Homo sapiens: one gene and its partners. The protein of the gene in region 1 interacts with the protein of each later gene in a pairwise test. Each region holds a gene or a part of one and is shown in the gene's direction. Other genes may lie near its edges.

Region 1 (6,483 bases):
GTCTCAAATTCCTGGCTTCAAGCTGTCCTCTGGCCTTGCCCTCCCAAACTACTGGGATTACAGGCATGCCACTGCACCTGTTTTTTTTTTTAAATGTTTTAATTAAAAAAAAATATATATTAGCTGGGCACGGTGGCTCATGCCTGTAATCCTAACACTTTGGGAGGCCGAGGTAGGTGGATCACCTGAGGTCGGGAGTTCGAGACCAGCCTGACCAACATGGAGAAACCCCGTCTCTACTGAAAAAAAAATACAAAATTAGCCGGGTGTGGTGGCGCATGCCTGTAATCCCAGCTACTCAGGAGGCTGAGGCAGGAGAATCACTTGAACCCGGGAGCCAGAGGTTGTGGTGAGCCAAGATCGCACCATTGCACTCCAGCCTGGGCGACAAGAACGAAACTCCATCTCAATAAAAAAACAAAAAACAAAAACAAAAACTATACACACACACACACACACACACACACACACACACACACACACACACACACACTTTTGAGACGGAGTCTCGCTCTGTCACCCAGGTTGAAGTGCAGTGACGCGAACTTGGCTCACTGCAACCTCTGCCTCTGGGTTCAAGTGATTCTCGTGCCTCCCGAGTAGCTGGGTCTACAGGTGTGCACCACCACACCTGGCTAATTTTTGTATATTTAGTAGAGACGGGGTTTTGGGACATTGGCTGGTCTCAAACTCCTGACCTCAGGTGATCCACCCCGCTCAGCCTCCCAAAGCTGGGATTACAGGCAACAGCCTCTGCACCCAGCCCCTTTCTTGATTCTTGAGCCACCCGTACCTCCAAGACACTGTCACTAATCTCCTTAGACCAGTGGTCTCAATTGGAGATGGTTTTTCTATGAGGGGACATTTGGCATCATCTAGAGGCATTATTGGTTGTTATGGCTTATGGAGGGTATAGGTATAGTTTACACCTGTCATTTAGTGGGTAGGGGCCAGGCATGCTCCTACACGTCCTACAATGTACAGGGCAGCCCTTCACAACAGAGAATCATGTAGTCCAAAATATCAGTAGTGCCAAAATTGAGAAACCTTCCTTTATACATGTCTCATGATATTGCCTAATGTCAGACTCTTTCTTGCAGAGCCATCCTCCTCAAGGTGCGAGACATGGTCAGCAGCCATGTGGAGCGAGTGTTTCAGATCTATGAGCAACACGCAGACACAGTTGGCATTGATGCTGTCCTGCAGCCTTCAGCAGTGAGCCCCTCTGTGGCTGACATGTTGGAATGGTTGCAGGATATTGAGAGACATTATCGAAAGTCGTATCCTTTGCACACATTTCAGGTCACAGCCAGAGCTGTTCTAAGTCTTTCAAATTTCAGTTTTCACAAGATTGGAAAACTAAGTAGTTTGAGTCAGTTCTCTTTGGTTCCTGAACTTGGATTCTTCCTGCATTCCTTTGTATAATCCTTCCTCTAATAATTTATCGAGTAGCTACTACCTGTCAGGCACTGTTCTTGGTGCAAAGAGACAGGCATTGAAAAAGGCAAGTAGAATGCTGAATGGCGATAAGTGTTATGGAGAAAAATAAAGCAGGGAAAGTGAGGAGTGAGGGTGGAGTTGTGATTTAAAATAGGGTGGTCAGAGCAGGCTTCATGAGAAAGTGATATTTGAGCAGAGATCTGAAGAGGGTAAGGGAAAGAGCTATGTGGCTATTTGGGGAGAGAAAGTTACTAGGCAGAGGAAACATCAAATGCAAAGGCCTTGTGGTAAGAACATTCCTGGTCTATTCAGGAAATAGTAAGGAGGCTAGACTGGAGCATGAGGAGGAGCCTAACAGCAGGTGAGGGTAGAAAGACAGGGGGCTCGACTTTCTAGGGCCTTGAAGGTCTTTGAAAGAATTTGGGGTCTGGGCGTGGTGGCTCACACCTGTAATCCCAGCCCTTTGGGAAGCTGAGGTGGGAGGACTGCTTGAGCCCGAGAGTTTGAGACCAGCCTGGGCAACATGGTGAAACGCCGTCTCTACAAAAAATACAAAAATTAGCCAGGCATGGTGGTATGTGCCTGAAGTCTGTAATCCCAGCTACTCGGGAGGGTGAAGCTGGAGGATTGCTTGAACTGGGGGAGGTCAAGGCTGCAGTGAGCTGAGATCGTGCCACTGCACTCCAGCCTGGGTGATAAAGTGAAACTCTGTCTCCAAAAAAAAAAAAAAGAATTTTGGGCCAGGCATGATGGTGTGCAGCTATAGTCCCAGCTACTCAGGAGGCTGAGGTGGGAGGGTTGCTTGAGCGTGGGAGGTCAAGGCTGCAGTGAGCCTTGATTGCCAGCCTGGGTGTGATCACCAGCCTAGGTGACAGAGCAAGACCCTGTCTCAAACCACCCCCCGCCCACCCCCCCCCCCCAAAAAAAAGCATTCGAGTGACAGAAAAACCTCTTAGAAACTTGATTAAGGAGTAACAGGATAAGACCTATGTTTTTAACAGTATCATTCTGGCTTCGTTCTAGGGTAAGATTTGGGGTAGTGGGGGCAAGGGTAAAAGCAGAAAGACCAGTTAGTTGAAGCTCTAACATTTTTCTCTCAAAAAAATTTTTTTTTTGCCTAGGAGATGGGGTCTTGCTGTGTTGACCAGGCTGGTCTTGAACTCCTGGCCTTGATGATCCTACCTCCTTGGCTTCCCAAAGTGCTAAGAGTACCGGTGTGAGCCACCATGCCTGGTCTTCTCTCAATTCTTGTCTGACACCTGATTTTAGCCTCTAGCTTAGGTTTCTGCCTTCATGTGAATAATTCCCAAACCCCAACTTTTCTTGTCTCTGGTCTTGACTTTTGGTTTCCTGCAGATGCCTCCAACTGGATTGTTCTTAGAACTGCAAACTCAAGTTTAAAATTGAACTCCTCAATCTAGCCCTCAAATTCAGCCCCCTTTTCCTTGAGTCGTAGAACCCACCCTGTTTTCTCTTTTATTTATTTATTTTTTGAGACAGAGTTTTGCTCTTGTTGCCCAGACTGGGGTGCAATGGCACGATCTTGGCTCACTGCAACCTCCACCTCCCGAGTTCAAGCAATTCTCCTGCCTCAGCCTCCCAAGTAGCTGAGATTACAGACACCTGCCACCACGCCTGGCTAATTTTTGTACTTTTAGTAGAGAGGCGGTTTCACCATGTTGGCTAGGCTGATCTGAAACTCCTGACCTCAGGCCTCCCAAAGTGCTGAGATTACAGGCTCGAGCCACCGCGCCCGGCTTATTTTCCCTTTTAAATGCATTGGTAGCAGTAGTAGTAACAGCAACAGGAGCATGGGCAGAAGGAGCAAGAGCTGCGGCTGACATTACTAAGCACTTGCTATGTGCTAGAATGTTTACACAGTCACTTGTCAAGTCCTTTCCTTCTGTTTCCCTGGTGCTTCTTTGATTTTCCCTCTCTGTCCCCATCCCCTCTGTTGCTTACATGGCTTCTTAGCTCTCACTTGGACTCTTAATTGCCTCTTGACAGTTTTCTCTGTCTAGTTTCTTTCCTTCTAAGCTGACTCCAATGAATGACCTCTATATCTGCAGGAAGTCTGGTTCTGATCCTGATAGTTAGGATCAGAATTGTTCTGTACTGTATAGGAATAGCTCCTGTTGCTAATGGGATAAAGTTCAGAGCCCTGCGTTGGTACTTGGTGTTCTTTCTGTTCTGGCTCAGCCCACCTTTCAGCCTTTCTGACTGCTCTCCATGTGGCGTCCATGCTGAGCAGACTGGAAGATTTGCTTTCCCTGAATTCATTCTATGCATCTCCACCTCTGTGCCTTTGTTCATGTTTCCTACCAGCTGGGGTGTCCCTGCTTCCTCTGAATTGGATGTATTTATCCTCTGAACCTCCGCTAGCTTTACCTCTCATGTCCCTTTTGTTCTTTCTTTTCAGGATCTGATTTTGTCCTCACCATGCTGAGATCCCAGATTTCAGGGATGGTTTCATTCCTCTTTCCCTGTAGCACAAAGCCATGTTAGTAAACAGTTGCTCAGGAAATATTTGTAGCATAGGTGAATCAGGCCCACCTGGTAAAATGTAAGGATATCTGCACTTTCACTTTTATGGCTCCCTCTGGTTCTCACCAGGGTGTTTTTTTTCACTTCAGCATACTGCATTTTCTTTTGAGCAGTCCTTAACTTCCAGAAAGGTACCTGAAGAGAAAGTATCTTCTTTCGTCTATCCAGTGGGGAGACTTGGCAAACATACAAGCTTTGCCCAAGGCCTGGGACCGAATTTCAAAAGACGAACACCAAGATCTTGTACAAGGTACTGGTTTGTGTTCTTCCTTTGTGTCTCCTCTCCTCCTTTCTCTCCCTGTGGCTCGCCTCTTTGGAAGCATTAGGAAGGTGCCCTTGCTGTGCCTCTGTGTGTTTTATGTTCTCGGGAGAGGTGATAATGCCATTTTTTCTGTCTTCCTATTTCAGATATCCTATTGAATGTTTCCTTCTTCCTGGAAGAGTAAGGAAGCTATGCGTATCTGGAGACCACGGGTACCACAGTTGAAGACTGACATTCTGAACCCTGATGTTTCTAAAGAAACGTCAGTATTTCAGTCTGACATATTTGAAACATCAGTGCCTTGAACCTTAGGACTGGGTCTTGGGGAGGATTAGCGCCTAGATGTCTGATTTTGGAGCTGCAGCATGCCAGGCCGTGGCTGAGAGTATGTGAGCCATGCCTTGCCCTTTTCTGAGGCTCAGGGAAGTGGATGGAGCTAGAGAGACAACAGGAAAGACGGTGCTGAAGAACATAGTGTCTTTCCTCTATTGTGGACCTAAAGAGGTGGGGAAGCAAGGACAAGAGGCAAAGAGCCACACTGCCCTTGGCATCATCCAAAGCATTGTCTGGTTGACACCAGGTCCTGGTTTTGTGTCTTTTGTCAATACCTGAATCCTTGACAAAAGAAAAAGTGGTTTTGATGATTTAAAGAAATAAGGGTGATTTTGACAGAAAATATATTTTAAAAATTTTGACCAATTGCAATAGTTATCCTCAAGCCAATTTCCAGAACCTGCCACCAGGGGGAGGTGGTGCAGCATGAATCATTCTGAATGCTTTGTCTTTGAAGTGTTCCCCTATTGCTGTTACCATCTCAGAGGAAGTAACTGGGCATGGTGAGACTCCTAAAATGACAGGAGTTTTTTTGGCCAAAGCTGGCATCTGACTTGCCACATTCCTCTGAGTCTGGAGTAGCCGCAGGGGTGGGAGAATGCCAGCCCAGAGTCAGTCCATCGGGGTTACATTTCCAAGGTCTGCTGCCTTCATCTATGTAATGGCCGTGTTACTTTCAGATCTTTCAGCTTCCCAGAGTGTTGTGGGAATCTTGGTCATTGAATGTAAAGGGACTTAGTAAAGGGTATAGATATTTTTCAAAAATGAAAATAACTTTTTTTCTTATAAGTGATAAGCTTTTATAAAGATCATAGGAAAACTAGAAAAAATGTAAAATGTAGAAAATTGTAAAACAAACTTCATTAGAGATATTTTGATAGATACCTTTTCAGTGTCTATTTACAAATTTTTTCTTTTAATATAGATAGGGTCTCACTATATTGCCCAGCTCACTCCTGAGCTCAAGGGATCCTCCCACCATAGCCTCCCAAAATATTGGAAATACAGGCATGAGCCACTGCTCCTGACCAATTCACAAATTTTTTTAAAGAACAAACGTGCTATCATCGATACATACTGTTAGGTTGTCTTTTTTTAAAAAACCTAATGTAATTTGTTCATCTTTTTATATCTGTAAATATAGCTCAACACAGTTATATTCTTTTTGTGAATGTATTATATCTACAATTTACCTTTTTTCTTAGATTTTACATGCATTTTCCCAAATCTTTGTGTTTGCCTATCTGTAAAGGTAATACATTCTGATTACAAAAAATGAAAATGTTACATAGAAATGTACCGTTATCCATCTACCAGATAACTATTATTAATAATGTGTATTTATTTTTCCAGGAATTAAAAAACATCTATCATATAAGTATTGCAAATAAAACTTAAAAAGCATTTAAGTGTCAAGTCTTATGTTGGGCTCTGGGGACAGAAATAAAAGAGAGCCCTAGAAAGGCTCACAGTTCCACCAGGGAAAGATTAATGTGCAAATAAGTCACTGATATCTTGTTAAAATTTGGATTCTGATTCTGTAGGTCTGGGATGGGGCCCAGATTCTGCATTTCAAACGAAGTCTCAGCTAATGGTCCAAGGACCAGACTTTGGATTGCAGAGACTTAAGTTGTAATACAATAATAAAAGTGTTATAGTTAAGGTAAAAACAGGTGCTGTGGGAGAATAGAGATGATAACTAATTGCCTGTGGAACTCCTTCTTGATGACAGTGACATTTGAGGTAGGCCTTGAAGGGAATTTTACCTGGGGCTAGGAGAGGGGTGCGGGGCATTCCATGCACAGGGGATAATCTAAACAAAGGCCATGTTTGAGGCAGGATGGAAGCCAACACTTGACGAAAGCTAGCTGTGTGCCAGGCATTGTGCTTGTTGCCTTTACCCT
Region 2 (7,862 bases), on another chromosome or scaffold:
AAATCTACATGGTAGAAGGGGCTGAAGCAATGTCGTGCCTGATCCTACCATAGAGAGGATAAAGGGGAGGAATGAGGGATGGGGATCATTTCAGACACTGATAATTCAAGCAGTTAAGCTGGATCACAAAGTAATATATGCTGCTTTCAAAATGTCTAGTTCATGATTCATTATTGCTTATTATGAGGACTTAGAGTTTCAATCTGTAGAAGTTTCAATAAAATACAGATCTTAGAGATCATGCAGTCAAGCCAATTCATTTTACAGATGAGCATCACAGGTCCCAGACCACACACGCCTTCAGATAAAAACAGGGTCGCAGAGGTGGTGACCAGGCCGGAGTTGGTGGATTCCCCTGGCTCCTGCACTATGGGGGCGCTAGATCTGTCACATTCCTTGCCCCTTTACAAATAGTTTTGGGAGCAAATCCCCAGGAATGTTTCTTGTGGATTCACATGTATCAAGGATACTCATTTCCACACCAAAGGCATTGATGCCCCACCTGGCACATAACAGCCACTCAATAAATGTGTTAGATGAATGAATGAATGAATGTGTAAGTGTGAATGACCTCAAAGGTGAGTGATGCTGCCTAAACCAAGGTCATCGAAACTGGCCCTTAGGGCACCATTCCCTGAAGCCACCCGTGCCATCATCTTTATTCACAGCCAAGCAGCTGGCCCCAGAGCTTTGTGTCTTGCTCTTCCCCAGATATCTCAGTGAAAAGCCTTTGATTCAATTTTCACTCCCTCTCTTATAGCTCTCTTGCTCTAGGACTCCACTGGGGGTCCGAGAGCTGTTCTTCCTCTGCTATTTCCTGTTGTTCTTGAATAAAACAAATGCCCCTTCAACTTTGCTTCTCCATGGGACATGTTGTTCTCTGAGAGGCTCCTTGATCCTGCAAGTAATTAGGTCTGGAAGGGAGGGTGTCCTATTGGCCCTCCAGACTGGTTCAGACATGTCTAGACCCAGCTTAAATTACCTTGTCTGTTACACAAGGATGGTAACATGTTGGAAAGAAAATGAGACAAGCACTTTGCTGCTGTCTGGTAGAGCAGGTGGGGCTCCTGTTTAACATTTGCTGATCTCCACTTAAGAGCAGAACATCATCAGCCTTAGTCGCCATGCTGAAATGGGCTCTGTCACTTGGATAGCGTTTGTCAGTTGAAAGCTTTCTCTCCATAAACATCAACAGACTGGAAACCCAGTGAAAACTTTGTTTTTAATATTTAAAAATTAAGTCTCCACATGCACTCTGGGACAGAGGGGCAATAAATTACAACTTGCTATGTGCCAGAGATTATACTAATTGTATATCTGATTAAATTCTCACAACAGCCTTAAGAGGGTTTTGTAATCCTCATCTGCAGATGAAAAGTGGAGGAGGAGAGAGTAAGTGGCTTGCCTGAGTAAGGGCCAAGACGGAATTCAAACCCAGATTTTTGATGTCACAAAGCTAGTATCCTGGCGGGGCGTGGTGGCTCATGCCTGTAATCCCAGCACTTTGGGAGGCCGAGGCAGGTGGATCACTTGAGGTCAGGAATTTGAGACCCACCTGGCCAATGTGGATAAACCCTGTCTCTACTAAAAATACAAAAATTAGCCGGGCGTGGAGGCAGGCGCCTGTTATCCCAGCTACGAGGGAGGCTGAGGCAGTAGACTTGCTTGAACCCAGGAGGCTGAGGTTGCAGCGAGCTGAGATCACGCCCTGCTGCACTCCAGCCTGGGTGACAGGAACAAGACTCTGTCAAAACAAAACAAAAAAAAAAGCTAGTATCCTTCTCTTAGTGTTGCCCCCTGCAGAGGAACTGTTTTTTTTTTTTTTTCTTTTAAAGCACCCTACATCACATAATGTCAGCTGGACTTTTCTGTGATATTAACACTGGGATCCTGTAAAACACTATATTCTGACCATAGTCTGACACTCTGCATAATGAACAATTAGCCGGGAAAACATAGTATTTGAACCTCCTTTGCAGAGAGGAAATTCTCACAACTCCAAAGCAATAGTCAGCCCACAGTCAATGCCATCTCATCACCCAGCCCAAGGCTCGGCCTAAAACCTTCTAGAGGGTCTCACTCTAAAGATAACCCAAAGGTCTCACAGCTTCCTGGTTGCAAAAACGACAACAGGAGCAGGAATTGAGACCTAAAGATCATTTGGGTAGAAATGAGGAAAGAAATGACATGTTAAATGATGATTTTTCCCTAACTTGCCTTGTTCTTTCTAGATGTGGCTCAAGAACTTGCAGAGTTATGGTGGGATAATTCGACTGATCAAATGCTGAAAGTTTTCCTATCGACTTCAAGGCTGTTCAAATCTCTATGTACTTTGAAGTCTGAGGCACAAGATAATTTCCCAGAGATTCATGTTTCTATCGATGCTAGGCTGGGCTGACACAGATAACCCCTCAAGAGGCCTTTCCGAACTGCTGTATAAACTGTCCTGGGTCCAGCAATAAAGCAACTGTGTCATTATAGTTCTCTGCCCTTCAGAAGATCTGATCTTAATACCCTTCTCTTCTTTTTGTCCCTCTGATTTCATCAAATTTGTTGCCATTCTGGGTGTTTCTCCTTCTCTCCCCGACTTTTTCTACTTCAGATCAAAGAACTTCCCCTTTTTCCCACTTTTGGATTTGCGCCCTGGAGGACAACGCAAGGTTAACTTCCCTCCCACCTCCTCTTGTAGGCACACAGGGTGCCCCTTAGCCAGCGAAATCTCCGCGCCCGAGATCCTCTCACAATTTCAGGCTGGTGAATTGTAGTAGGAGACATGGTTTAGTTTGATGTGGTTAAGTCAGTCATCATGGCATCTTCGTACCCTCAGCCCCAAACCGCTCTCCTACTCATCACCCTCACTTTCATTTCTTTGGATTATCTTTCATCGGCTTACCACCAGCCTTCACAGCCTCACCCAAGGCTGAAGCAGGGCTAGCAGGGTGGTGCGTTTCCTTCCCTGGTTGAGCTGGTGACTGCTGTGGGTAAGCAGGTCCAATGTGAACTCAATTTTACATTGAGAAAGAGAAAGCAAGAGTGAGTGGGCTGCTAAGACTGTTGCTTCATGGTTTCCCCTAAGCCCCAGAAATAGAAAGGCAGACTTCCGACTGGCAGAGCCCGTATGCTAACCACCAGACCACACTGCCAGATAAGAAAAATGTTCGATTGTGTCATACTTCCCTCATTGGCTCCAGTGTCTGAAAATGGCCCTGAATTTCAGAGAGTCTTACCATGACCCAGGGATTTAGAGAGGATCGAAGAGGGAGGACAAAGGAATCAGGCACCTTCTCTCTCTCTTTTCTGGGGTAAATTTATTTTCAACCACAAAAGTAAAGGAAAGAAAAAGTCACAACAGATGAGTTATGAGCTAACTTTCTGATTTGCACATGTAAGAGAAAGAAATGAACTGGATATCATTAGACATTGAGAAAGGGAGTCTGCAAGCTAGCAATGTATCTTCGGCCTTTTTGATTTACACGTGTTTATTTATGAGTACCTACTGTGTGCCAGGCATGATGCTTGGTGCTGCCAATTCAAAGAGAAATAAGACACCTCCTTGCAAAGTGAGAAGGCAGAACTAGATTCAGATTCACCTAGATTTCAACTCTTGTGCTCAGGCCACCACCACCACCATGGAAACAATTTTGCTTGACTCTCCCGGCGCAGCCGCGGCAGGCGTGTGTGTTGTCAGACACTGCAGGAAGAGTGATGGCCTGGGTGTTGACAGGCTCCTAATTGGAAGGTAGGAGGTGCCACCAGAGATCAGCTATAAAAGATATCTTTGGACTGGGGTGGGCTGCTAATGCTTGGAAGAGACTTGTGGGTGAGGCCCGGTGAGCTGTCACCTCGGAATTGGGCCTTGCCCAGCAGACAGACATGCATGCGGGGGAGGTAGCTGACAGACAGGGGCGCATGGGGAAGCAGCCATTCCAGAGAACTGCAACAGCAGATTGCAAACCAGGACTTCAGGACTCAGAGGGGGACAAGGAAAGGAGAGCCTATAGTGGCCCCAAAGCCCAGGGTCAGAGGCAGGGCCAGGAGAGCAGCTGACAAGAGCTTTATGGTAAGGACAAAAGAGAAGACAGCCGGAGTCTCCTTTTATTCAGCTCATAAAGACCCAACTTCTGTGCACTTATAACTGTTCAGACCCTGAGGGGTTCAAAAAAAGAACCGTGTTAGGAGAATTCAATATTTAATTAAGAGATGATCAGATCCGTGCACCGAAATTATTGCTGGGTAAGACAATACTGTGTGTGTTACATAGCATTGGAACTTAGGAAAGCTCTTTCCTTGTGTTGTTTAATTTAATCCACTCAACAACCCTGCAAAGTGGGTACCATTGTCCCTGTTTTTTATGAATGAGGGGGTGAGGTGCTGAGAAGCTGTGTACGTTATTTGAGTTTGTCTGGCTAGTCAGTGGCTGAGCCAAGTTCCAATCCAGGTCATGTGAGCCTCTGAACTTTCTGATAAAACCTGCAGACCCCCTTAACTGGGATAATATAGTCATGCATTAAGCAAGAAGGAGAAGTAAATACAGGCTGATGGTGTAGGGGAGAAATTCAAAGGGAGAAGGCCTAGGAGGGAGAGGGAGCTATGTGTGAACAGAACCAAAGATGGCCTCTGGGAATTGGAAGGTCTCTTGGAATTCGTCCAAACTGAGGATCACAAGTCTCCACATTCTGAGTAGGAGGATGAGGGTCTGAGTTAGGATTTGGGTCCTGCAGGGCTTGCTAAGGAATCCCCTGATGGCCTAGGATTCCACGCAGAGCACATCTGGTGTGAGAGAGCTCGCTGCAAGGGTGAAGGCTCCGCCCTATCAGATAGACAACCAGGCCACCAAGAGGCCCAGCCCTCCAAACCCTGGATTTGCAACATCCTCAAAGAACAGCAACGGGCCTTGAGCAGAATTGAGAAGGAAATACCCCCACCTGCCCTCAGCCGTTAAGTGGGCTTTGCTATTCACAAGGGCCTCTGGGTGTCCTGGCAGAGAGGGGAGATGGCACAGGCACCAGGTGCTAGGGTGCCAGGGCCTCCCGAGAAGGAACAGGTGCAAAGCAGGCAATTAGCCCAGAAGGTATCCGTGGGGCAGGCAGCCTAGATCTGATGGGGGAAGCCACCAGGATTACATCATCTGCTGGTGAGTAGGCTTCATTAATTCTCTGATGAATGGACGATTGCAAGGGAACTTTTTTCATCTTCAAGGAGCCAGAAGAAGTGGTGATTAAATTGGTCTTTTAAAATAAAAAGACTCCAAAGGGGTACAAGTCTTCAAGCTTCCCCTGTGGTGTTCCGGGCACTCTGGCTTCTCTTTCGGAGGGAGGAAGAGCATCTATTCATAGGCTGTGACTTGGAGAGGCCCCACGGTGAGTCAGGCGCTTGCTGTGTGAGCCGCTGGTTGCTAATGTCTTCGGGAACTGCTAATTTACCCATCTAATTTGTTCCTGTACACTGGCCACAAAGGGAGACCACTCAATTATTCTGATCCAAAAGAGAGGCTTGTGTTTACCATGATCTCCCCAGCAACTGTGTGAGTGTGTGTGCATGTGTGTGTGTGTGTGTGTGTGTGTGTGTGTGTGTGTGTGTGTTTGCCTAACAACCTTAGGCAATGACGAAGAGGTGGGGCTGCTGCCCTTGTTAGCATTTTCAAACACATTCCAGTTCTGAGTTGAGGGCAAAGATTGTAATGGGGTGCTTCAGAGAAGCCTTGGCTCCCAAGGAGGTTATAACTTCAAAGGGTGTTTTTGAAAAACCAAGGCGGATGAGGAAAGTGGCTACAAGTTCCTTCCATCACAGAGGATCAATGAAGGGGAACAAAGATTTGGGAGCATCTACTTTGTGCCAGGTACTGTGCTTGGGTTTTACACGTCTTCTCTTGTTGACTTTGCATAACTCCCCTTTGAAGCAGATATTACTCCAGGTTCTTGCCGTAATGTTTCAGCTTAAAGAAAACCAACCCATACTTCTTTAGGTTGCCCTGAAAAGGTGAATCTTCTGTGAAGCCTTTTCTGTCTTTATCTGTTAAAATTAATTAAGCTCTTGTTTGTGCTCCCAGAAAATCACTTTAGACCTTAGAAAGATGGCAGCCTCAGTTTTCTCATTTGTAATATAGGGGTACCCATAGGGTCATTGTGAGAAATAATAGAAATAAATCATGGAAGTGCTTGGATAGTAGCTGGTACTTAGCCCTCATCAGTCATCATTGTCATTGTTGTTAAGAGTAATAATAATAATAATATCACTTATTATAATTACTCACCTCTAGGTTTTTAAAAAACTTACAGGCCGGGCACATTGGCTAACGCCTGTAATCTTAGCACTTTGGGAGGCCAAGGCAGGCAGATCGCCTGAGGTCAGCAGTTCAAGACCAGCTTGGGCAACATGGTGAAACCCTGTCTCTACTAAAAATATGAAAATTAGCCACGCGTGGTGGCTCATCCCTGTAATCCCAGCTACTCGGGAGGCTGAGAGAGGAGAATTGCTTGAACCCGGGAGGCGGAGGTTGCAGTGAGCCAAGATGGCACTATTGCACTCCAGCCTGGGTGACGAGAAACTCCATCTCATAAAAACAAAAACAAAAACAAAAAAACTTACATAAATTTATGGGGAACAAGTACAATTTTGTGACAAGCGTAAATTGCATAGTCTTGAAGTCAGGGCTTCTAAGGTATCTATCACCAGATTGATATCTATTGGTATCTATCACCAGATTGATATCTATTGATATCTATCACCAGATTGATATCACCACATTGTACCTATTAATTAATTTCTCATCATCCTCCCCCCACCCTTCTGAGTCTCCAGTGTATATTATTCCATACCCTAATGCCATGTGTTCACATTATTTAGCTCCCACTTATGAGTGAACAGTGTGATATTTGTCTTTCAGTGTCTGACTTTTTTAACTTAAGATAACAGCTTCCAGTTCTACCCATGTGGCTGCGAGAGACATGATTTCATTCTTTTTTATGGCTGAATAATATTCCATTGCATATATATACACCACAGTTTTAAATCCAATCATCCATTGATGGACACTTAGGTTGATTCCACATCTTTGCTATTGTGACTAGTGCTACGATAAACATACAAGTGCAGGTATCTAATTATTTCTTTTCCTTTGGATGGATACCCAGTAGTGGGATTGCTGGATTGAATGGTAGTTCTAATTTTAGTTCTCTGACAAATCTCCATACTGTTCTTCCTAGAGATTGTACTAATTTACATTCCCACCAACAGCGTATAAGAGTTTCCTTTTCTCCACATCGCCACTAGGTTGTAAGTTCCTTGAATGTAGGGATCATGTCTCTTTTCTTCATTGTTTTATAACAAGAGCCTAGGAGTGTTTGGCACATGGCAAGTACTTGTTTTCTAGCTGACAGATGAATGAACAAATGAGTGAAGGATGCTTCCTCCTCACTGCTGTGAGCTTCTGAGAATGGACCCTTGTCTGACCTGCTTCTGTATCTCTAGTGTGACTGCTTTGTCTGGCACAACAGAACTGCTCAGCGATTCTGTTGAACGGATGCTGCTGCCTGGCCCGTATCTGGCCTGGAGAGTCTGGCTGCGAGCTCATCTGTGCTCTGGTCTGGCTAAGGTTAGCTGCAGCCCTAGGAACTCAGAGAGTGTGTCCTGGACATTTCACCCCTAGTTGGTGAGCTCCTCAAGGGTAGGGACGGTGTCTTGTTTATTTTTAAATTCTTGGTGCCCAGTACAGTGCCTGGTACACAGGAGATGCTCAAATGGCTACCCCTAGCCTCTGAGGTCCCACTGCACTCAAAGAAGAGCAGAGCTCCAAATGACCTTGTCATCTTTCCCCTATTACCCAAACCTGTTCAATTTCCCCATTTCTGTTTATTAAAGAT
Region 3 (7,273 bases), on another chromosome or scaffold:
CCTGTAATCCCAGCACTTTGGGAGGCCGAGGTGGGTGGATCATGAGGTCAGGAGATCGAGATCATCCTGGCTAACACAATGAAACCCCATCTCTTCTAAAAATACAAAAAATTAGCCGGCGTGGTGGCGGGCACCTGTAGTGCCAGCTACTCCAGAGGCTGAGGCGGGAGAATGGCGTTAGCCCGGGAAGCGGAGCTTGCAGTGAGCCAAGATCGCGCCACTGCACTCCAGCCTGGGCAACAGAGCGAGACTCCATCTCAAACAAACAAAAAAATTAGCTGGGCATGGTGGTGCACGTATGTAATCCCAGCTACTCAGGAGGCTGAGGCAGGAGAATCGGTTGAACCCAGGAGGGGGAGGTTGCAGTGAGCTGAGGTTGCGCCACTGCACTCCAGCCTAGGCTGCAGAGCGAGACTGACTCAAAAACAAAAAAGCACACAATGAGATATTATCGTACCTTAGTTAGAATGGCTGTTATTAAGAAGACAAAACATGACAGGTATTGGCAAGGATGCTAAGAGAAGGCAACTCTTGACTGGGCGCAGTGGCTCACGCCTGTAATCCCAGCATTTTGGGAGGCTGAGGTGGGTGGATCACCTGAGGTCGGGAGTTCAAGATCAGCCTGACCAACATGGAGAAACCTCATCTCTACTAAAAATGCAAAATTAGTCAGGAGTGGTGGCACGCGCCTGTAATCCCAGCTACTTGGGAGGCTGAGGCAGGAGAATCGCTTGAACCCTGGTGGCAGAAGTTGTGGTGAGCCAAGATTGTGCCATTGCACTCCAGCCTGGGCAACAAGAGTGAAACTCCTTCTCCAAAAAAAAAAAGAAAAAAAAAGAGAAGGGAACTCCTACACACTGTTGGTGGGAACGTAAGTTAGTACAGCCACTACTGAAAACAATATGGAGATGTCTGAAAAAAACAAAAACAGAACTACCATGTGGGCTGGGCATGGTGACTCACACCTGTAATCCCAGCACTTTGGGAGGCCAAGGCTGGTCGATCACCAGAGGTCAGAAGTTCACAATAGCCTAGCCAACATGGCAAAACCCCTTCTCTACTAAAAATACAAAATTTAGCTGGGTGTGATGGAGGGTGCCTGTAATCCCAGCTACTTGTGAGGCTGAGGCAGGAAAATCACTTGAACCTGGGAGGCAGAGGCTGCAATGAGCCGAGACCAGGGCATTGCACTCCAACCTAGACAACAAAAGCAAAACTCCGTCTCAAAAAAAAAAAAAAAGAACTACCATGTGATCCAGCAATCCCACTACCTGGAATTTATCCAAAGGAAAAGAAATCAGTATATAAAAAAGATAACCTGCATCTCCGTGTTTACTGTAGAGCCGTGTTTACAATAGCAAAGATATGGAATCAACCTAAGTGTTGATCAGGGGACAAATGAATAAAGAAAATATGATATATATACACAGTGGACTTAAGCCATAAAAAATGAAATCATGTTTACAGCATGGATGGAACTGGAGGTCATTATGTTAAGTGAATAAGCCAGACACAGAAAGGCAAATATCACATGTCCTCACTTACATGTGGGAGCTAGAAAAGTTGATCTCATGGAGGTAGAGAGTAGAATGATACCAGAGATTGGAAGGGTGTACGTGGGTGGGAGAGGTGGATGAAGAGAAGTTGGGTAATGGGTACAAACATACACTTAGGAAGAAGGGATAACTTGTAATGTTCAATAGCAGAGTAGGGTGACTGTAGTTAACAAAGTACTGTAAATTTCCATAGCTAGAAGAGAGGACTTGAAATTTTCCCAACACATAGAAATGTTAAATACTCAAAGTGATTGATACCTTAAATATCCTGACTTGATTATTGTACATTCTATGTATGAAGAAAAGCAAAATATCACATGAACTCCATAAATATGTAAAAATTTTGTGTATCAATATATTTTTTGTTTTGTTTGTTTTTTTTTTTTTTAGATGGAGTCTTGCTCTGTCACACAGGCTGGAGTGCAATGGTGTGATCTTGGCTCACTGCAACCTCTGCCTCCTGAGTTCAAGCCATTCTTGTGCCTCAGCCTCCTGAGTAGCTGGGACTACAGGCGTCCGACTCCACACCCAGCTAATTTTTGTATTTTTAGTACAGACGGGGTTTTGCCATGTTGGCCAGGCTGGTCTCGAACTCCTGACCTCAGGTGATCCTCCCGCCTTGGCCTCCCAAAGTGTTGGGATTACAGGCACAAGCCACTGTGCCCAGCCCAATTTTTTTTTCTTTTTGAGACGGGGTCTCACTCTGTCACGCAGGTTGAAGTGCAGTGGCATGATCTTGCTCACTGCAACCTCTGCTTCCTGGGTTCAAGGAATTCTTGTGCCTCAGCCTCCTGAGTAGCTGGGACTACAGGTGTGCACCACCAGACCTGGCCAATTTTTGTATTTTTAGTAGAGATGGAGTTTCAGCATGTTGCCCATGCTGGTTTCTAACTTCTGGCCTAAAGCAATCTGCCCACCTCAGCCTCCCAAAGTGCTGAGATTACAGGTGTGAGCAACTGGGCTGGGCCTAAATTAAATATTTTCAAAATTTAAAAAATACTCATTTCTAAGGATATATTTTTCCTTATATAATTTCTACAGTATTCACCACATGGAGTGCAGTGAGGCAGTTCCAGAACTCAAGGTAATAATGTAAGCATATTAATAATATTTAATTATTAACAATTAATAATTAATCAATTAATAACATATGCATATGAGATCAGCAGGAGTCACACTAAAAGCCAAAAAGCATTTCAGGTGAAAAACAGCAAGGGTAGGCCAGAAAACACAAAGAAATCTTGACTGAAAAGTCAGCAATAAAAAACACTATTGAATAAAAAGGAAGGCTCGATATACTAGGGCTGGCAGGGGAGCCAAGCAAGTAGATCCAGAGCCAGAATGACAGCAGGGACCTGGTAGGCCTTGCTTGTTATCTCCAGCAACCAGCCCCACGCTTAGCAAACAGTATTCTGCATCCTGTATGATTGCAGGTATATTCCAAATGTGGGGATGAAGGCAACTAGTATTTACAGTCCAATGCCACCAGCCATGAGGATGACCCATCTTGGCTGAAAAATAAAGACCTTAAATCTAGGAAGCGGAAGATACAACCCAGGACAGCAGGAAGGGGAGACCCGGTATGAGAAGAACTGAGGCCCAACCCAGTTTAGAGAGGAGACTGAAGGCTAAAGGAGGAAGGTTTCCCAGGAAAAAAAAAATTAGGATTTGAAAGTTGATGCTATCTTTGATAATTTGGAACAACGTAAATAAGTAGAAATGGCAGGGCCGGGCGCCGTGGCTCACGCCTGTAATCCCAGCACTTTGGGAGGCTGAGGCGGGAGGATCACCTGAGGTCGGGAGTTCGAGACCAGCCTGACTTAATATGGAGAAACCCCGTCTCTACTAAAAATACAAAATTAGACGGGCATGGTGGCTCATGCCTGTAATCCCAGCTACTTGGGAGGCTGAGGCAGGAGAATCGCTTGAACCTGGGAGGCGAAGGTTGCGGTGAGCCTAGATAGCGCCATTGCACTCCAGCCTGGGCAAGCCGAGATAGCGCCATTGCACTCCAGCCTGGGCAACAAGAGTAAAACTCCTTCTCAAAGAAAAAGTAGAAATGGCTGGGAACCGTGGCGCATGCCTGTAATCACAGCACTTTGGGAGGCCGAGGCAGGAGAATTGCTTGAGGCCAGGAGTTCCAGACCAGCCTGGGCAACATAGCAAGACCCTGTCTCTGTTTTAAAATTTAAAAATTAGCCAAGCATTGGGTGTGCGCCTGTGGTCCCAGCTACTCGGGAGGCTGAGGTGAGAAGATCGCTTCAGCCCGGGAGGTCGAGTCTGCAGTGAGCTAGGATCGCACTGCTGGGCCACAGAGCAAGACCCTGTCTCAAAACAAACAAAAAATAAATTCATGTATGTTAGCAACAATTACTATTTAATTTAAAACTTCCCCATTCCGATTCCATCCTCACCAAGCACGTTCCTTCGCCTGCAGCTTCGGTCTAGAGCCTGAGCGAGCCGAGCTGCGGATGCCAGGGGCTGGGTGGACTCCGCAGCTAAGCTACTGTAAAACACGCACCTGCTTCTACCGCGGGTGTACACATGGTTTGCCAGGGTGTGCGCGTCTTCCCAAGGGGTCTGGGGACCAAATTCCAGCTCCCGCCATCGGGAGGCACGGTAAGAGACCGTAGGGGACACAATCCCGAGCACCGCAGATGCCGAGGTCTCCGCTGCGCTCCAGTCTGTCAACAGAGGCTTCAGGACCGCGGGGTCCCTTCAAATGCCCCGCCAGTCCCAGGCCAATCACCGCGCAGCTTCTTCCGGGATCGTCGCCAATCATCGGCCGTTGCGTATTGCGGGTACAGAGGGGTAAGTGAAGCTTCGGGCCCTTACATCTTTCTTGAAGGCAAGAAGCCTCTCCTCTACTTCCCAGACACCCCGCCTCCCCCACTAGAAAAAGCAGCCGAAGCGGCTTTATTTAAGGGCAAGTGGGACGATGAGGCCAGAGAAGTCAGAAAGGCTCCATATTTGATATGGTCAAATAATGGCGCCCTTAAGAGCAGCCTGTGACAATTGAAGGGTGGTCGCCATATTTTCAGAAGGCACCTTCCGGGTCCCTTAACCCGGGTGTCTATGTCCAAGCGGCCATGAAGTGAATAAACACTGAGGAATTATATTTGTCCCTATCAGAATCCTCGAATCCCTAGCAGCCAGTCCCTGCTACTTCGGTTGCCTCGGCTGCGTTCGGACGCCACGGCTGGGCGGGGCCGCCCTTCCTGTGGACAACGACAGCTGAGGCCGGGAGCGGGGAGGCGGCGGCTCCAGGGACCTGGCGGCCGCCGATCGGGGCTGCGAGGCCCCATGGCGCCGCCCCCAGCCCCGCTCCTGGCGCCGAGGCCCGGGGAGACCCGGCCTGGTTGCAGGAAGCCCGGGACTGTGAGCTTCGCGGACGTGGCCGTGTACTTCTCCCCGGAGGAGTGGGGCTGTCTGCGGCCCGCGCAGAGGGCTCTGTACCGGGACGTGATGCAGGAGACCTACGGCCACCTGGGCGCGCTCGGTGAGAGCCCCGGGTCCGAGCCCCCTCCTCCTTCACCGGGTTCACAGGGGAGATGATGTAGAAGGGCCGAGAGGACTGTGAGCCCTAATCCCGCACTCTTGCACCAACACCAGCAGCCACCTCCCGTTCCCAGGGCTTCAGGTACCCCCTCGGGAGTGTTTTCACCCGCATCCATTTCATTCAGGCAGCAGCACTGCAGCCCCTTCCAGGTTGAGTATAAGCTCCGAGGGGGTGCCCTCAGCCTGGAGGGGAATGCCATCTTCCCACGATGGCCTCTCAGGCCCGCGCTGTGATCCCTGTTCTCTCCCAGGATTCCCAGGCCCCAAACCAGCCCTCATCTCTTGGATGGAACAGGAGAGTGAGGCTTGGAGCCCCGCCGCCCAGGATCCTGAGAAGGGGGAAAGACTGGGAGGAGCTCGGAGAGGTGAGGGATAGTCCCGGGTCCCCCCACTTGGTTTTCCAGGGCTTCCTGTCTAGCAGAGTTTCTTTTCAGGCCCCCACTTCCAGCATCCCTAAAGAAATTCAACTGTGTTGGGTACTAGAGGAGTAAAGAAGGCAGACCTGGTACAAAGTTTTCAGAACATGGGACAGCGGTCCTGTGAGGACTGGGAGCCCAGTCCAACCAGGCACTCCAGCCTGGGTGACAGAGTGAGACTCCGTCTCAAAAATAAATAAATAAATAAATAAATAAATAAATAAATAAATAAATAATAGCCCCTGCTTCCTGAGCACTTCCTAAGTGCTTAACATGCATCTACTCAGCTAAACCAGTAACGCTGTGAAGTCAAAAGCCATTATTATTCCCATTTGATGCATAAGGAACCAAGGCTCAGATAAGGCACTTTTAGGAGATCTGAATCCTGTTTACCTTGTTCTAAAGCCTGTGTGTTAATCACTGGACAGAACTTCCCTCACTGCCTTAAGTGAAAAGCATTCTATAACCTGAGACAGTCTGTGCAAAAGTGTTTGTAAGTGTAACTTAATTCCGGTTTCCCAGGAGATGTCCCAAACAGGAAGGAAGAGGAACCGGAGGAAGTCCCAAGAGCCAAAGGGCCTAGAAAGGCTCCTGTGAAGGAGAGTCCTGAAGTGCTGGTGGAACGCAACCCTGACCCAGCTATTAGCGTGGCCCCGGCACGGGCACAGCCACCCAAAAATGCTGCCTGGGACCCGACCACAGGAGCACAGCCCCCGGCACCCATACCCAGCATGGATGCTCAGGCCGGCCAGCGGCGCCACGTGTGCACGGACTGCGGCCGCCGCTTCACCTACCCCTCACTGCTGGTCAGCCACAGGCGCATGCACTCGGGGGAGCGGCCTTTCCCCTGCCCCGAGTGTGGCATGCGCTTCAAGAGGAAGTTCGCAGTGGAAGCGCACCAGTGGATCCACCGCTCCTGCTCCGGGGGGCGGCGGGGCCGGAGGCCTGGGATCCGGGCTGTGCCTCGGGCCCCCGTCCGAGGTGACCGGGACCCGCCTGTGCTCTTCCGGCACTACCCAGACATCTTCGAGGAGTGCGGCTGAGCGGCACCGCAGGCTGGAGTTGAGCCTGACCTTGGCACGAAGGACTGACGGATCCCTGAGGTGGGCCACTGAGTCGGGGACTCCGGAACTGAAATTCATGCCCTGGGCTTTCCTCAAGGATCCCTCAAGTTTCCAACTTGTAAAAAGAAAAGTGCCTGTAAAGATTCGAATAGATTAGACTTGCCACCCATCTCCCCAGTCTTTTGTTTAACAAAAAAAAAAAAAAAAAAAAAAAAAAAGAAGAGAGTGAGACCCTGGACTCATTTCAAAGTGTTATCTGAAGATCAGGTGCAACAGAGACCTTTATATCATCTCAGGAACTAGCCACTCCTTATCTATTTCAGATGCAGATGCTGAGGGGGACCAGGGCCTGGGGAGGGGACCTACATGGAGGGCGTGGTCAAACCCTGGCTAATTGTCATCAGCAGGGGACCCAGACACTGGAGTGGATGGGAGTAGAATAGATGCAGGTGGCACAAATCCAGCCTCTGTTGGGAGACCAAGGAGGGAGGATCGTTTGAGTCCAGGAGTTCAGACCAGCCTGAGCAACAGGCTATCTAGCGATATCTAGATATCTAGGATATCACTATCTAGAGATAGTGAAATCCTATCTCTACAAAAAAAAAAAAAAAAAATGAACCAGGCATAGTGGCACATCGTGCCTGTGGTCCCAGCCACTTGGGAGGCTGAGGTGGGAGGA

The links.
Region 2: the proteins of AIRIM (region 1) and LMO2 interact in binary tests that used the Homo sapiens proteins (3 or more experiments, as listed by UniProt).
Region 3: the proteins of AIRIM (region 1) and ZNF688 interact in binary tests that used the Homo sapiens proteins (3 or more experiments, as listed by UniProt).

The regions. Positions count from the first base shown.
Region 1 is NC_000001.11:37,681,070-37,687,552, reverse strand, and holds the end of AIRIM (AFG2-interacting ribosome maturation factor), read left to right. Parts: intron 1-1,100; coding exon 1,101-1,280; intron 1,281-4,111; coding exon of another isoform or gene 4,112-4,115; coding exon 4,116-4,234; intron 4,235-4,392; coding exon 4,393-4,430; coding exon of another isoform or gene 4,431-4,471; 3' UTR 4,472-5,983; downstream 5,984-6,483. UniProt on the Homo sapiens protein: Part of the 55LCC heterohexameric ATPase complex which is chromatin-associated and promotes replisome proteostasis to maintain replication fork progression and genome stability.
Region 2 is NC_000011.10:33,889,067-33,896,928, reverse strand, and holds the start of LMO2 (rhombotin-2), read left to right. Parts: upstream 1-4,852; 5' UTR 4,853-5,134; intron 5,135-7,862. UniProt on the Homo sapiens protein: Acts with TAL1/SCL to regulate red blood cell development. Also acts with LDB1 to maintain erythroid precursors in an immature state.
Region 3 is NC_000016.10:30,569,216-30,576,488, reverse strand, and holds ZNF688 (zinc finger protein 688), read left to right. Parts: upstream 1-4,774; 5' UTR 4,775-4,859; coding exon 4,860-5,055; intron 5,056-5,061; exon of another isoform or gene 5,062-5,264; intron 5,265-5,365; coding exon 5,366-5,479; intron 5,480-6,052; coding exon 6,053-6,573; 3' UTR 6,574-6,763; downstream 6,764-7,273. UniProt on the Homo sapiens protein: May be involved in transcriptional regulation.